2 linked regions of the Homo sapiens genome follow. The protein of the gene in region 2 interacts with the protein of the main gene of each other region in a pairwise test. Each region holds a gene or a part of one and is shown on either strand. Other genes may lie near its edges.

Region 1 (8,281 bases), on a different chromosome or scaffold from region 2:
TCACAGATAATAGAGAAAAGACAGGTAGTAGAGAAAGTCACTGCCTTGTTCTTGAGACAGTCTTTCAGACCATTTTTAGTCCTGCCTGGTTTTTACTCTCAAATGAAATCTGGATGGTGTGGTTTTACAGGGTATGTCTCATAACAATGATGAAAAAAGGAGAATTTAAGTTAAAATTAATTAAGGAGGCCCTTATTAGAAAAAATAACATTGCAGATATTATATAAGAATGAATGAAATAGAAACTACAGTTTTTATGATTAAGGTGTTCATTCCAAAGATCTGATAAAAATTTGTCTTTGAAAGATTAGTCATCAAAAGGCTTGAAAAGAGTGAAGGATACAAAGTCATAGGTTATGCCCCATTCCTGACAAGGGCATTTATGGCAGGAGCACCCGACCTGGAGGCAGGGACCAGGCTTCTCAGCCTGGTTTGGCTCTCTCTAGCTCTGGGCCTTGGGTGAGCCAGGGGTCTCTTCTGTAAAATGAAAAATTGGTCTATCAATCCGAGGCCCTCCCCTAGCCCTACCATCCGTGTAAAGCCATAAGCCTTTGTAACTCACCATCAGAATCTCTAGGCCTAAAAGAACTCCCTCTAAAATCAGTTCTAGTCAAACGCCAGCCTGGTAGTTTTCAATCCTTGTTAAGGATTGAAATCCTAAAATCTTTTTAGGGTTAAGATCAGAAATGTAACCTTAAGGAAATAGAAGAAAGCAGCTGAAATACATATTTTTAAAGTGATAAACTGATTCTGATCTATTTCTCAGGGGGTGAGGGGGAAGGCAATACAGTGAACTTGGAAAAAAGAAATATTGAAATGTCAATATAATATCTTTTATGGGTTCAAGAATTTATCCTAAACTTTATCTTTTACTGTGACAGTCCCAGAGTCCTCAATAAGAGCTTCAAAAATTTTAGTGGGGTTTCTGGAAGAGTGCTATCACTATCTGGAAATTTCTAAAAGGCTTCTCTCTTTTTATAAAAAAAAAAATTCCTATGTTAAATCTATGATTTGTGATTCTCAACAATGGAATACTAATGGATACTCAAAAAACACTAATTGCTCATTTTTTTCCTAATTACGAAATGTAATAATTCTTTAGTGAAAACATTAAACATGATGTCATTTTTAAAGTGCCAGACTTTGTATTTAAAGCATTGCCACAAAATAGATAGCTTACTTATTTTACAAATAGCAACACAAAAAGGGTCTTCTGTGTCTTTAAGTCTGTTTAGCATATCTGAAAGTGCTTCTTCCTCACACTTAGATATTTAAGGCAATTGCCCCCCAGTTTATTACCTTATCTCAATTGTATAATTTTCTTAAATAGAATTCAGAGAAATAGTCATAGATTTAAATTTTTAAACACTAATTAAGCATTGGTTGATTCCCATAATACAGCTGGTAGTCAAAGTGGACAAGATAATGAATTGACTGAGATCACTGTTCCATCTTCATCCAAGAAAGCTGCCTCTAAAAAAAAAAAAGACCTTAAATTGCTGTAGAAATCCAATTTGTAAGAAGCAAAAGAAGCATATAGATGGGAAACACCAGCCAGGATCACATTAATTTTGTGACTAACTGCATTGCTTAGAAGAAGAAGAAGGAGAAGGAGAAGGAGAAGAAAGAAAAGATGACAAAAATAATAAGTCCACTCAAATCCCAATTTTAATCCAACAACATAACCAGAAGAAAATGAACTACAAATACAAAGTTCACATCTTAGTGATCTAGTGAACACTACACACCGACAAAATAATTTTTAGCTTAGTAAGAAGTAAACTCCAATGACAAGAAAATATTATAGGATTGTGATACCTCATTGCTAAAAAGTAGATTATAGTAAGAAATTGGGAGTCTAGGAACTTGCCATCATGGAAACTCCATGATTGATTGGTTTTGAATGTGCAGGTGTGGGAAACTGACAAATCATTGTAACAAAAATCTTAAACTTACTAGAATTGAAAATCTATGCAGGAAAAGTCTCTGTGACAAACTACCATTCATTTAGCCACCTATTCAAATAAAAGCTGTGACATAACAGAGATCTAGAAATAAGGGCATGGTTTCCAATTTTTTGTTGGAATGTTCTAATAAACTATCTTCTCAGGTATCAACTATATAAGGTCACGACTGACCGCTAATTGACAGGCAATTTATCGGCACCAGCAATTTACATTAAAAATAGTGGGCTTGGAGATATTTTCAAATATGTTTACTATGAGTTAAGTTGAAAAATAAAAACCACTATAATCAGTAAGGATTTAAAAATAAGAGATCCATATAAAATGCTATAAGCAAAGGAAAATGAGAAACATTTCTGGGGAGACACAAGTGAGTTTTATTATACTTCTTCTTTTAAGTTTTAGAACTAAAGTAATAGTTGATATTCAACCCATAGAATCATCCTTCAGGGGCATACACATCTAGGTTTGAATGCGGAAAACTGTTTTATTGTTTTTTTTTAATTTTTAGGTTTCTTTTTCAAGAACTTTCTTATTAAAACTTAAATACTTATTGAAGTGATTCATGAAACCTCACAGAAAGGGGAATTCATGCTTGACACATTACTTAACATGCTCCATAGCTTCCCCACTGTAGTTCATATGCTTCTGAACATATTTTACCTGGGAAATAATAGTCTTATTCACACACACACACACACACACACACACACACACATCCTTCCACATAAAATGCTATAAGTCCCAGGAAACTGACAAAAGCAACATTAAAATTTTGTGCAAAATCTAAACTCCATTTCTGAATTCCATCTATGAAAATACAACATTGGTTCTATTTAACTAAGTGCAAAGTTTTCTCTCTGTTTAATATGCATAATAAACATCATCCTTACCATTATCTGTAGAATAAAAGCAGCAACGTGTTGCTTCCTGCAGTCACCAAATCAAGTTTTTTCTTCCTTTCTTTCTAGTAACTTCTGTTTCACCAGCAAGATTAGGAAGAAAATAAGTCTTGAGTATTTGCCTCAGTATTTCAGACCAGAAGATAGTGAAACTAGCTTTTAGTAAAAAGAACAGGTCTGGTATTTTACAATTACTTCTGCAACCCAGAGGTACCTCCTAGACTCTGGTACCTCCCTCGTTCTCTAAGTTTCTTTTAGTAATGAGACTAATTTTTCCAGTAGTCTTGAACTCCCTAGATTTAACTGACATGGAAAATGTGACTAAAAATTTGTGGAACTGTCTAGCCTCCAACCCTACACAGAATCAACTTTGTTGTAAATGTTGAAGAACACCTCGCAAGCAGCTACATGCTCAGTTTATACTCCTGCGCTACGCAGCAGAGAACACCAAATAACAGTGCGCCATCTAGTTAGCAAGCTGCAATCTCCATGCTAGAAGGGGGGACACTTTCAAACCCTGGGAGTTAAGAACTTGTCAGGGTTCAGCTGCTCTAAAGGTCCAATTGTTTGTTTAAATAAAAAAAAATATCGCTACTGAGATAATCCACATCTAGTGGATATGGGAAAATTTAGGTTATAATGGCACTACAAACTTTTACATCTAACTTTGATTTACAAGATAAAAGCAAGTTTTAAATTAAAAGGGCTTTCTGTTAATAGAGCTTATTATTCTGAAGACGGGAATGATTTTCTTCGAAAGTTGTCCCTGGGTGCATGCCTATTATCTTTGCTTTTCCCCTTCCACTAATGAGCATTTATCTAAAGAGCCTGTTAATCCTCTGATGTGTGCTTCTGGTCAGAGGTAACAGTTTGAATAAAACCACTAATCACTGATCACTAAATCACTGATCATTAATCACACTTTCCAGTGCCCATGACTGGGCCATTTTTTTTCCTTTAAGTCTATGCATCACAAACAAGAAGTTCAACATTTTCGATGCACATATATTGTGTGGAGGTTACACTATTTCATCTCTAGATGTGAATAAATACTAAATCCTGCCACAGACTTGGGGAAGGATGTCAATTAGACCCCAGACAGGAGTTTCACAAATGCCTACCCTACAGCATGGCTTTCGCTTTGAAGAAAGTAGATCTAATTATAAGAAAACATGTGTTCTTCAAGAAATTCCCACATATTTGCAATATAAACTTTTCTTTATTTAGTTTTCACCAACTCCAAATCAGGGACCACTCCAATCCCCTCTCTCCCTCTATCCAAAACTCTGTTAATACTTTTTTAAATTTAATTTCTGCTGCACACCTCCCTCACGCCCCCACCCCCCCACCCCCCACACCGAGGGTTCTTTTTACTTTGATCCCTTGCAACAAGTCATACACAGGGTCTTTATTTCAACTGCCAGATACGGAGGTTCTGACTCAGTTCAATGACTTACGTATTCGACTTCCTCTTTCAACATAGAAACTTAAGGTTAAGAGCTAGAAACTAACGCACGCAGCAATTTATTGTATGGAAGTTTAGGTTCAACGACTCACATTCCCTCACTTTGGAAATGAAACGTTTAGTCTTGATCCTTTCAGCTAAACCTGATTTTGTCAGCATCCCTCTTCTGCTAAAGGGCAGGCACTACGTAAAGTGAAATACTTTGTTTGCAGTGGGTGTATTGCTTTCCTAAGTCACCACCACGAGGACAGAGTATTATCATAACGCTTGCAAACATTTCCTGATTTGCCTTTTCTATCAGGACTAAGCATTTTCGCCCTAGAGGAGAAGGCTTACTGGTGCCTTTCTTAAATAATACAAAAGGGCGGATTGCGCGCTGATCAGGTACAGTGGTCCCCTCAGACCCCAGAAGCTTTTACCCACACTCCAGGGACCGTGCTCGCCCCAGGGAAAGCTGTAAAAAGGCGGGGGCGGGGCTAGAGTGATAACGGTGTAGACGGGGGAGTGGTGGAGAGGGAGGGGCTGGGAAGAGAGGGCAATAAAGATGCCCAGGGAGCCGGCGATTGCACGAGTGTGTTGTGGGGAGGGTAGGGGGATGCAAAGCAGAGTTGCTTTGTCAGCATTCTAAGCTCCTGAACCCTTGAGGAGCTCAAGCCGTTAATCAAACACTTACTGGCCTGCAGAATGACGTAATGGACCTGTATCCAGTCTTTATTCCTTGACACATGTCAGAGAAGGAGGGAAAAATAAAAATCAAACACATTCTGCAGACTGACAACGAAATATACAAGTAGCCCGCTCCAGTCCCCGGCCTTGAGCAAGCATCAAGTGGGGGCGGCACCGGTCCAGGGAAAGTTGGGGATGGGGGTGAGAGTGTGGACAAGGTCTAGGGCTTTATCTACCAGACGCCCCTTAAAAATAAATCTATGGCAAAGAAGAAGCGGGATGCAGCTGCTGAGAGAAAACATCTCCTTGGTTCCTTCCTTCGCATCTTGCCCCTCTAAGAACTTCGTGAAAAGTTCAAGTGATTCTGCCGAGAATCTGCCGCAGGGGGAGACTCCGCCGCCAGGTCTTGGGAATTGCCTGGGCGCCGCCAAAGCTCGAGCCGGAGCTGTCATTTGGGGCAGCGGCCGGGAAGAGGTAACGATGCCAGCAAGAAAGCAGCGGAGGCAGGAGGCGGCCGGAGGAGTGGACTGGAGCGGACGGAGCCTCGCCGCTCTCCAGCCCGGAGCGCCTGGAGCGAAAGCCAAGCGCCCTCCGAGGGCGACCTCCCCTCCCCGGGCGCGCGCCCACCCGCTGCAGCCGGCAGCCCGGCGGGAGAGGTGGCAGCTGCAGCTCCGCACCGGGGAGAGCGAGCCCCCTGCGCGCGCGCCCACCCGCCCCCTAGGTGACCCGGCGTCCTCGCCGCGCCCGCTGGAAGTTTGCAAACTTTCTCCGGGGGTTCCGCCGCCACGCTGGGAAGCTGGGGACGCGGGGGGAGGTTCCTGGCTCGCCGTCTCCGCTGCCGCTTGACCGCACTTCTGGAGGGCTCCGCACCTTGCCAGGTCTCTGGAGGCAAACACACACCCCCGATTCATAACTGGTCCCCGCGTCAGGGGACTCGCGCGCTCCCACACACGCACGCACGCCGGGCGGACTCGGCGCCGGCTCCACGTTAGCATCCCTCCAGGCGCGCGGCGCGGCGGCCACCGAGCGCTCCGGCACTCACGCGGCGCGGGGTCTCTAGGGTGGCCTCAGGACACAGCCGAATTCCACAGTCTACCAGCACTCGGGGCCGGACTTCCCTCTGGTCCGCCAAAATGTTTACAAACACAGATCACCCTCCAGAAAAAAATGCATCGCATCTTCCCTACTCCTTGCCCTGTGACCTGCCCACTGGACCAAGTAACCTCGCGGCTGCTGCCGAGAACCAACCCCTGCAAACAAGTACACTCCCGAGATGGCTCCTGCGGCAAGTGCAACAAAAGTGGCTAAATGCAAAAGCCCCAGAAGTGGCCGAGCCGTATTTTTAGGAACTTACCAAACAAGTGTGGAGAAGGCAAGAGCGGAGCCCGGGTGAAGGGACCACGTTGGACTGAGCAAAGATTACAATACATTCTATTTAGAGTGCATTACATCACCCCCCCGGTGACGTCACGTGGGATTCCTGAACTTCTAAATCATTGCGGTCCGCTGGGGAGGGACGGAGCGAGGGGCGGGGCCGGCGCGTCGAGGGGGCAGGCCCCGCCCCGGTCCCGCCCCGACCCCGCCCCGCCCGCGCGGACCCTGGTGCACCCGCCCGGGAGCGGCAGCGGCGGGGGCGACTGCGCAAGCAACAGCTTGCAGAGCCCAGCGCCGTGTGACACGGCTCCCTGACATTAGTGGTGTGAGTCAGCTTGGAAACAATCCTTATGGTTTCAGACAAGACCACGGAGGAGGCGCGGGCGTGGGCTCTTCTGCGGGGAGGGCCTGATGGGGTTTGAAAGGTGTAGGGATGGGGGTAGGGGAGAGGTGGGGAGGGGGATGCTGAAGGATGTGGGAAAAGACTTTGCAAACAGAAATGCAGGACGCTCCTCCCTCCCCCACCGGAGGATGTCCAGCTCCTTTTTGCTTGCGACAGTCATGACCTCATTTCAGTGCTCCCTGCATCCTGGCTTTTCAGAGCACTCACTTGTCACCCCTTCTTCACCGCCCCCTCATCTCACCTCCTCCAGGAGAATAACTTCCTTATGGTGCACACTCTCATGAAATACACAGCCCCACCCTTCGCGGGACCCCTGCTTCATGCGTCTGAGAAGCTGTAGGGAGAGTTGCTCCTAAGGCGAAAGGTGAATCACAGCTAGAGCCAAGTGATGAGCCTGATTTAGACACGGCGTCAGAGCCGAAAGGGCCCTTGGCTGTCACTTCCAGAGCCTCTTCGGTAACTGGCCCAAGCTCACGGGCTGGGGAGCGGCAGAGCCAGGGCCAGACTGCAGGATCCGGGCGCCTGGTCTGCAGCGAGAGGAGCCTGGCGTCTCCAGTATCCGGCCGTCACCATCACTGTCACCATCCCCCTGCTGAATTTCCTTTCAGAAGTTCTCCCTTTGAGTAGGATTCAAAGAGAAGGCATAGGCTAAATCCAGCCCGATTCTAGACGACCAATGCCAACCTCGCAGCCCCTCACACCTTACAAAGCGCTTGCGACCACGTGATTTCCCTTGTTTCTCACACCAACCCGGGTACCAGAAGTAGGACAGGTATTATAATTATTCCCATTCTACAGGTGAGCTAAGGCAGACACCAGAAGGTTGGGGGCTGGCCTGAGATCACTTGATGAGCAAGGGGTGGCACTGGGCCCAACTCAATCCCTGTTTTCAAGCCCAGATCCCAACTGGGCTCCTTCATAGAGCCAGGGGTAAGCATTCCCTTCTTGTGGGTTATTGGTGGTTGGAACCTCTGCTAAGAACACATTGGCTGGGAGATGGAGCTTTGCTTAGAAACAGTTTAGCCCTCGTTAATAAACAATAATCATTTCTGACATTTATGTAACATCTGACATTTATATAGTACCTCTCATCCCAATGCATCACAACCATGACGGTGCAGTTTGCCAGAGAATCATGACTGGACTGGCTAGAAACTGTAATACATTGCCTGGATTGTCACATACTTCTGAGCTGGTTTTGACATACTAAATGGAAGAGCTTAGCATGTTGTTTCTGTTTTTAAGTGTTTAAGTGGCCCCTTGCCCTTTAGTGTTCCTTGAAACCACAGGGACTGATGACTGTTTGATCCTCACAGCCTTATTCAGAGTTCATCACTGAGTTTTCTACTTATTGTAGAAATAAAATCATTGCAATTTCATGCAAAAGGTTTCTAGCTGTCATATTACAGACTGAGATTTTTACATATTCCAGATCTCACACACACACACAAATCATTTCTAAATGTAAACTGAAGAAAAGAAGAGGTATTTATTAGTGTAGATTCTA
Region 2 (7,589 bases):
GACTACAAGCGCCCGCCACCACGCCCGGCTAATTTTTTTGTATTTTTTTAGTAGAGACCGGGGTTTCACCGTGTTAGCCAGGATGGTCTCGATTTCCTGACCTCGTGATCCGCCCGCCTCAGCCTCCCAAAGTGCTGGGATTACAGACGTGAGCCACCGCACCTGGCAAACATATTTTTAAAAAAACTCTTTTGGGAAGTTTTTTATGTTTTCTTTTCTTTTTCTTTTTTTTTTCTTTTTCTTTTTTTTTTTTTTTTTTTTTTTTTTTTGAGATGGAGTCTTGCTCTGTCGCCTAGACTGGAGTGCAGTGGTGCGATCTCTCCTCACTGCAACCTCTGCCTCACGGGTTCAAACAATTCTCCTGCCTCAGGCTCCAGAGTAGCTGGGATTACAGGCACTTACCACCATGCCCGGCTCATTTTTGTATTTTTAGTAGAGGCAGGGTTTCGCCACGTTGGCCAGGCTGGTCTCGAGCTCCTGACCTCAGGTGATCCACCCGCCTCGGCCTCCCAACTGCTGGGATTACAGGCGTGAGCTACCGTGTCCAGCCTTCTTTTTTCAATATTAGTCATTCTCTGTTCTTAAAGGGTATGGCTATAGTTGTTTCATCAAATCAATATTCTACTTTTTTTTCCGTTCAAATAAAGGATAAACTGTAGCCTTTGACGTAGGTTATTTCAATAGGAAATATTATAGTGAGGAAGCCCTAAGAGATGCTTTTTTTGTTTTGTTTTTGTTTTAATGAGAACACACTTTTATTTTCTTACTGTGCTATCTTTGGGGGACAGTTACAAGTTTAACTTAACGTAGATTCTTACGTGCTTGTCTCTGAAGATTAAGATAGCAGTAGGTAGTTGTGGGAATGAGAGATTGATAAATTTTGTTGACCAGAATCAAAGATGATACCAGGTGATCATTATAAGGGCCATTCCACTTCTTGTTTCAAAATACAAATCAGCGGAAGAGATGGCTAATCTTGTTTTCTCATGAAAATAAAGAACAAGTCAAGGCTTGGGGGGAACATCTGACATCACTGGAAGAGGAAAGAAGACAGGATTTATTTTGCAATTAGCTAGGTAAGAATGAGGACTGTTTTGTACGTAGGGCAAAAATGTTTCCTTAGACAATCTTACCATGTGGGTTTAATTAGTAAAATCTTTAATATATAGTAGGGATGCAGTTTATCTGAACTCTTGTCACTTTTATTCTCTCCAAAGGAATATGGCACTTAAGAAATAAAGCGCACCAATTTAGGACACGTCCAGGTATATTTCTTTCTTTTCTGACAACTTGCAGAAAAATAGAATCGCCTGTGACAAAGTACACAAATGATTAGTTGAATTATAGAGCTGACACAAACTACAAATCATTCAGTGTAATTTACTCAACGTATTGCTTGATTTGCCCACTTCCAGAATTTGAAACCAATACGGAACATTCGTATTTCAAATAAGGCAGAAGGATGAGAATTACGCTTATGAAAATGAAGAGAATGTTTATGGAAAATTTACAGAATAGGTTGGTCTATTTCTGTCAACTACAAAGATTGTTTACAAAAGGAAACTGAAAATAAAATGGCCTATCCTTGCCAGCTTTTCTTGGGAAGTATAGTAATATAGTGACTATTGCCCTAAAAGGAAAGTAAAGAGAACTTAGTTTCCATTACCGGTCTTCATTGATTTATGACATGCTTATAAGCTAACTCATCAATGTCTGTGATTATTTAGTTTGTGTGTTTGTTTCTCAACAAGATAAAAAGACTGTGATACATTTATTTATCATGACTTCACAGAAACATTAGGAGAATTAATAACGTATTATTTTTCAAAAGCTTGGAACACATGATTGTTATTTTTATTTTGGCAAATAAAGTAGATACATGAATAAGTTAAGCTTCCTATAACTGTATTAATTTTTTTTTTCTTTTTGAGGCGGAGTCCAGCTATGTCGCCCAGGCTGGAGTGCAGTGGCGCGATCTCGGCTCACTGCAACCTCTGCCTCCCGGGTTCAAGCGATTCTCCTGCCTTAGCCTTCTGAGTAGCTGGGATTAGAGGCACAGACCACCATGTCCAGCTAATTTTTTGTATTTTTAGTAGAGACCAGGTTTCGCCATGTTGGCCAGGCTGGTCTCCTGACCTCTGGTGATCAGCCCACCTCAGCTTCCCAAAGTGCTGGGATTACAGGCGTGAGCCACCATGCCTGGCCATTTTTTTTTTTAATCACTAGAAGTTGTGAGGAGTTACTGAATTTTTTTCATTTCACTTTATTCTTTTTCAAAACTCAAATTAACACAAGCGATGGCTAATCTTGTTTTCACATGAAAATTAAGGACAAGTCAGGGCTCACTTTCCATTCCACTTTATTTAGACATATCTTAATAAACTAAAAATTATTATAAGATTTTTCCCATTGATATTTGCATTGTTTTTCATTTTTGGAAAAATTTCATACTTCCGTTATCCATTTTTAGTCAAGTTACAATGTAATTAAACTTACCAAGTGAAAAACAATGTATACTTTAAGCTAAAAATTTAGAATTTCTACAAAGTCTTATAGTTGCGGGGAATCAGGAGAGGCAAGTTTCATTCAATGTCTTTTAGAACCAAGGTGACAGAGCTATACGTACATTTATTTGTAATGTAATATTTAGAGAAAAACATATTAATGCATTTTAGTGCTAAATGACATGGAGGGTTATTGATCAACTCTGTACAGCATATTTAATTTCTTAATACAACATGACCCATGGTGATGGTGTTTTAGATAAAAATCTCATGGATTTGATTATTATAATTTAAAAATACTTGATCTAATGAAAATTATTTTAATACATTTCTGGTTGAAATAGAGTGTATTTGCAATAGAAATCTTTCAAATATATTTTGTAGGATTTATGAAGGTAGAATGTTCAGTGCTCCCTCTCCAGGTTTTATCATATTGGTGAACTGACCTCTCAGCTCACAACTGTGGTAATAGTTTTGAAGAACCAAATAAGATACTCTGATAGGATAGTCTATTTTTGATTTGTCTATTCCAAATACATTCACAAGAAACCTATCCATCACTAGTAAAATTTCATTACATCCCCAAATCTAATGAGATCTATGAAAAAAATACAATGAAATCAATTTTATTCTTTTAAATAGCCTATTTTAATACAATTCATAATATTAAGAGTGAATATGTAGCTTTTTGGCTTGATTCTTATTCTATGCTATTTTCTAATGATGCTTTTTTATTGTTATTCATGTTCTTAACAATGCTCTGTGTTCTTCAGAGGCAATTCCAAACACAACTTTAATTTTTGAAAGTGCTCAGACATTTGAAAGTCCTGTGTGTGTGCGTGTGTGTTATGTATGTATATATTTATAGTTTCAACAGAACCACTTGCTATTGTAAATGAGACTAAAAATGTACTTTGAACTAAAAATTTCCATACTTATATGTTTATATGATTTAGATTCTAGAGTTTTGTTATTGTTTGCTTTGTTTTGCCAGACTTTAAGCTACTCCTGATATATAGTACCTGGAAAAATATTTCCTTTCCACTAAGTTTTTGGTCTTTAGGTGGCTTTTAAAAGTTTCTACGGAACCTTCAATTCCACAAAAAGTTATCCTCACTGCAGCATGAAAAGGCACAACTTTGATAATAAATGCCTAAAATCCCATAGTTTGTAAGAAAGTAGAAATCAAGTTTCCTACTTAAAGTGTTTTTTTTCCAGTCATATCAGCTATTACTAAGAATTATAAAACTTCTTGATAAATTTTTTCTATTCTAATTAATTGACTTTTAGCTAATTAAAAAATATACGGGTTTGTATTTTTTGCAAAATTATACAACTATATTACAAAATTGAAAGAATTTGGTTTTTTCTCCATGTGCTTGATTTTTGGGAAATCATATAACAAGCCAAGGTAAAGCAATTATTTAAAAAACCCACAGCAGAAAATTTCACCTTTATTACATATGCTTATATTACATTTGCAGTAAGGAGTGCCACCTTTTGAACTTTAGGTTTCACATATTCTGAACTTTGTTGTAAATAGGAACTGTAATGTTATATAATCATCTTTTTGTGTCAATATACGTTTTCCCTCTAGTTGGTCAGAAGTGATGGCTTGGCATACAACTTTTTTCATTTTCTTTTATTCTTCACAATTCTTTTCTAATTCAACTTAAGAGTAGAGTCCACCAATCCTTTTAATTGAGATCGACAACTGAAGATTGCTAACTAAATCCGAATGTATTCCTCTATGACAAACTGCATTTGCAGAATTTTTAGAGGCACTCCCGAAGTTTTAAGAGGATGTTTATTACACGAGTCTGTAGGGCAACATTTCCAAGTTGGTACACATAAACGAAAGAGGAAACGATAGTTAAGGAAATCCTGTTCCAGGTTTTCGGGCAGCCCGAGTGATTGACACATGATATCACCGGAGGCGTGTCCTGGAGTGGAGGTGGAGGTGGAGGCAAGGAGCTGAAATTCTGCGTAGCCGGAGTGAGACCGCTCTGCAAACCACTGCGTGCTTTGCAGAGTGATTATCAGCACAGTTCCCTGCCCTGGATAAGGAACAGCTACAGTCGCTGTTAAATGTGCCTGAAAAGCAATTTGCAATCTTTGCATTAGGTAAGTACCGTTTCCTTCCGTAGACATTTTAGGAAAGATAAGGTGAGAAATGTTGACTTTTGCAAGGAACTGAACATTTATTTATTTGAACTTGCTTTCCAGCTAAGGTTACTGGTTGCATTTCAAAACACCGGTAGCATTCCCACTGCTAAAACTAATGCTCTTAAAGTAAATGCTACCGCTAAAAGAAAAAGCAGGGTCCCTTTCACCTTTCCTTAACCGAACAGTAGACGTTTAAAGTCTGAAACGATCGAATTTGTGAAACACAGAGCCGTTAATGCCTTTATGCGAAGAGGGGCTAGCACTCGGTGTGTGGACCAAATGCGTGTTTGTTTAGGCATTGTTGGCGACCGAATCCCGAGTGAAGCATTGGTTTAAAACCTGAATTTCCCGTCTCTGTGTATTGATTCCTAACGCGCAGAGGCGTTGCTTGAACGTTGTTTGAACTCCTAGGCATTCCAGGGGGCAAAAGCACCTCGGCAAAAACGTGCAGGACTGCATGTTACTTTGGTTCGCGGCTGACACGCCGACTGTGCGCCGGCCTGTCAATCACCGGGAGCAGCAACAGGGAGCACATGGCAACGGGCTGCGGGCGAGCTGGCCAGCGGCCCGCCCGGGGTCCCAGCCCTTCGAAGAAAGGGACATTCACGAGCTTCTATCTCTAATTCTCTGTCGCAGGCATTTCGGCCGTGGAACCCCAGGCTCGGAGGACTGGGTGTGAGCGCTGCCCGGGAGAGGCTGACCTGCCGGGACCGGAGTGCCCGGGGACGCTGTGCCCCCACTTGCCCAACGTGCGGAATCGGCTAAGCGCGTCGGCCTGCGCGGGGCACAAGGGACGACGCCCGCCTTTCTCTCTCCGAGAAGGATCCCCAAACCTCACTCTCTTCACTCCTCCCCGCTAAAAAAAAAAAAAAAAAGAAAAGGGTAAAAAAATCCCCCTCCCCCTCCCGGCCGCGGCAGCCTCTGCCTGGCAGGCGCGTGCTCCGAGGTTTCGCCGGGGTACTGCGCGGCTCCGTGACCCACCCGCCGACGGCGGTTCGGGCCCCGACCCGGGCGCTGCGGAGTCTCGAACGCCCGTGACGTGGATTTTTCGCTCGTCAGGAAGCCGCCATCCCTTCCTTCGTTCCTTGCGAGGAGCGACTAGAACCCGAGTTCTCTGAGCACACCGTGCCGTCAGCTGGCCCGTCACGCACTCGACTCCGCCACTCCCCTACTTGTTTTTCTGAGACTTGGGAAGCCTTCCTGAAAGGATTTGTAAAAACTGGTTCTTGGAAAGGGGCTGCAGAAGACCTCCCGAGGTGGATGTTACTGAGCCGCCCGGCGAGCACCAGCCGTGACAGGTCCGGGCCCGGCCGCGCGGAGCCGCGGGAGAACTGCCCTCCGCAGCCGGAAGGGGGCCGCGGGGAGCGCTCCTGGCCGGTGGCGGCGGGGGCGGGGGAGGCCGCGAGCCGAGGCGCTCCAACTCCGGCGATGCCGCCTCGCCCTCCCCGCCGCGGTTGATGCGGCACGTGCACGCCGCCGCCCGCACCAGGACCTGGGCCGGGTCGCACGGCTTGGCCCCCGGCCACCGCTTCGGCCTAGGTGAGTGTGTGCGGCGGCCGCCCTCGGCCCGCTGGGCTGTAGGCGCGCGGGCGGGGCTCGCTCGGCGCGGCAGGTGCGGACTCGGCGGCGCTGCTGCCCGAGCCAGGACTCCGGGAGAGGAGGGGAGGGGAGGGACGACCTCGCTCGGCGCGGCCCCTCCCGCCGCTCCCTGCCCCCTGGGGGCCGCGGCTTCTGGGGGCTCAAGGTTGGGTGGCGGGGTGGGCGACGGTCTGCGGCTGCGGAACGTAACAGGACAGGGTCTCCTCCATCCCCGATTACCCGGAGCGGCGGCGCGGTGGCCCAGGTTGTCCTCTCGGAGAGCCCTTCACGCCCAAGGGGGATTTCAGGCGGCTCTGGGGATGTCCCCGGAGGCCCTCTTTGGAGGAGTGTGCCTCAAGCAGGGGGACGACAAAGGCTGTGTGTGTGCGTGTGTGTGTGTAGGCACATCCCCGGAATTCGCCGATTACCCCCTCGATAGAATTAGGCAGCCCCAAAGCCAGCCGCAACTTTCTTCTGGTTTGGAGCACAGTGCAAAGACAGGGGAAGGGAGAGGGCACTGCCACTTTAAAAGTGGGGAAGTCGGCTGGGCGCGGTGGCTCACGCCTGTAATCCCAGCACTTGGGGGGGCCGAGGCGCGCTGATCACCTGAGGTCAGGAGTTCGAGACCAGCCCGACCAACTGATGAAACCCCGTCTTTACTAAAAATGCAAAAATTAGCCGGCCGTGGTGACGCGCGACTGTAGTCACAGCTACTCGAGAGACTGAGGCGGGAGACCCGCTTGAACCCGGGAGGCGGAGGTTGCAGTGAGCCAAGGTCGCGCCACTGCACTCCAGCCTGGGAGACAAAGTGAGACTCCGGCTCAAAAAAAAAAAGTGGGGAAGTCCGCCCTCCTGAGCTCATGGTAACCTCAGCCTCCTCCCCTCCTCCTACCACAGAGAGAGGGAGAAAGAACTTGTTTTCATTCATAACTTTTTCCTTTTCCTTCTTCCGTCAACTATTTATTCAGTGCGGATTGCAGAGGGCGCAGCTCCACCGTGGTAACTTGCAATGTGGCCGCCCCTGCGCTGGCTTCTTTCTCCTCGGCCCTCGGTGAACCCAGCTTTTCCTTTAAAGCATAGACAAATCCTTGCTTAGGGTCAGCCAGACCGTGGGCTTGCTTTGGGCTCCCGCGTGGACGCTGAAGGCTCTTCATGATTTCTCAGAAACCTTGGTGGGCCACCCAAAAAGTGTGTTGGAAATCCACGGTGATCCTTAATATGGTGATGGGATTGTCCGAAAAGGTATTCTACTTCCATTCGCGTTTTCTTGGGGAAGGCAGTGTGCCGAGCGCGTGTGAGCGTGTTTGGGGCTTGTCCAAGACTGTCACTGCTTGAAAATGG

What was found.
Region 1: the proteins of SPRY1 (region 2) and CREB5 interact in binary tests that used the Homo sapiens proteins (3 or more experiments, as listed by UniProt).

Annotation. Positions count from the first base shown.
Region 1 is NC_000007.14:28,407,494-28,415,774, reverse strand, and holds the start of CREB5 (cyclic AMP-responsive element-binding protein 5), read right to left. Parts: upstream 3,258-8,281; 5' UTR 2,861-3,257; coding exon 2,858-2,860; intron 1-2,857. UniProt on the Homo sapiens protein: Binds to the cAMP response element and activates transcription.
Region 2 is NC_000004.12:123,392,305-123,399,893, forward strand, and holds the start of SPRY1 (protein sprouty homolog 1), read left to right. Parts: upstream 1-4,490; 5' UTR 4,491-4,628; intron 4,629-5,306; 5' UTR 5,307-5,552; exon of another isoform or gene 5,553-6,209; intron 6,210-6,217; exon of another isoform or gene 6,218-6,513; intron 6,514-7,235; exon of another isoform or gene 7,236-7,490; intron 7,491-7,589. UniProt on the Homo sapiens protein: Inhibits fibroblast growth factor (FGF)-induced retinal lens fiber differentiation, probably by inhibiting FGF-mediated phosphorylation of ERK1/2. Inhibits TGFB-induced epithelial-to-mesenchymal transition in lens epithelial cells.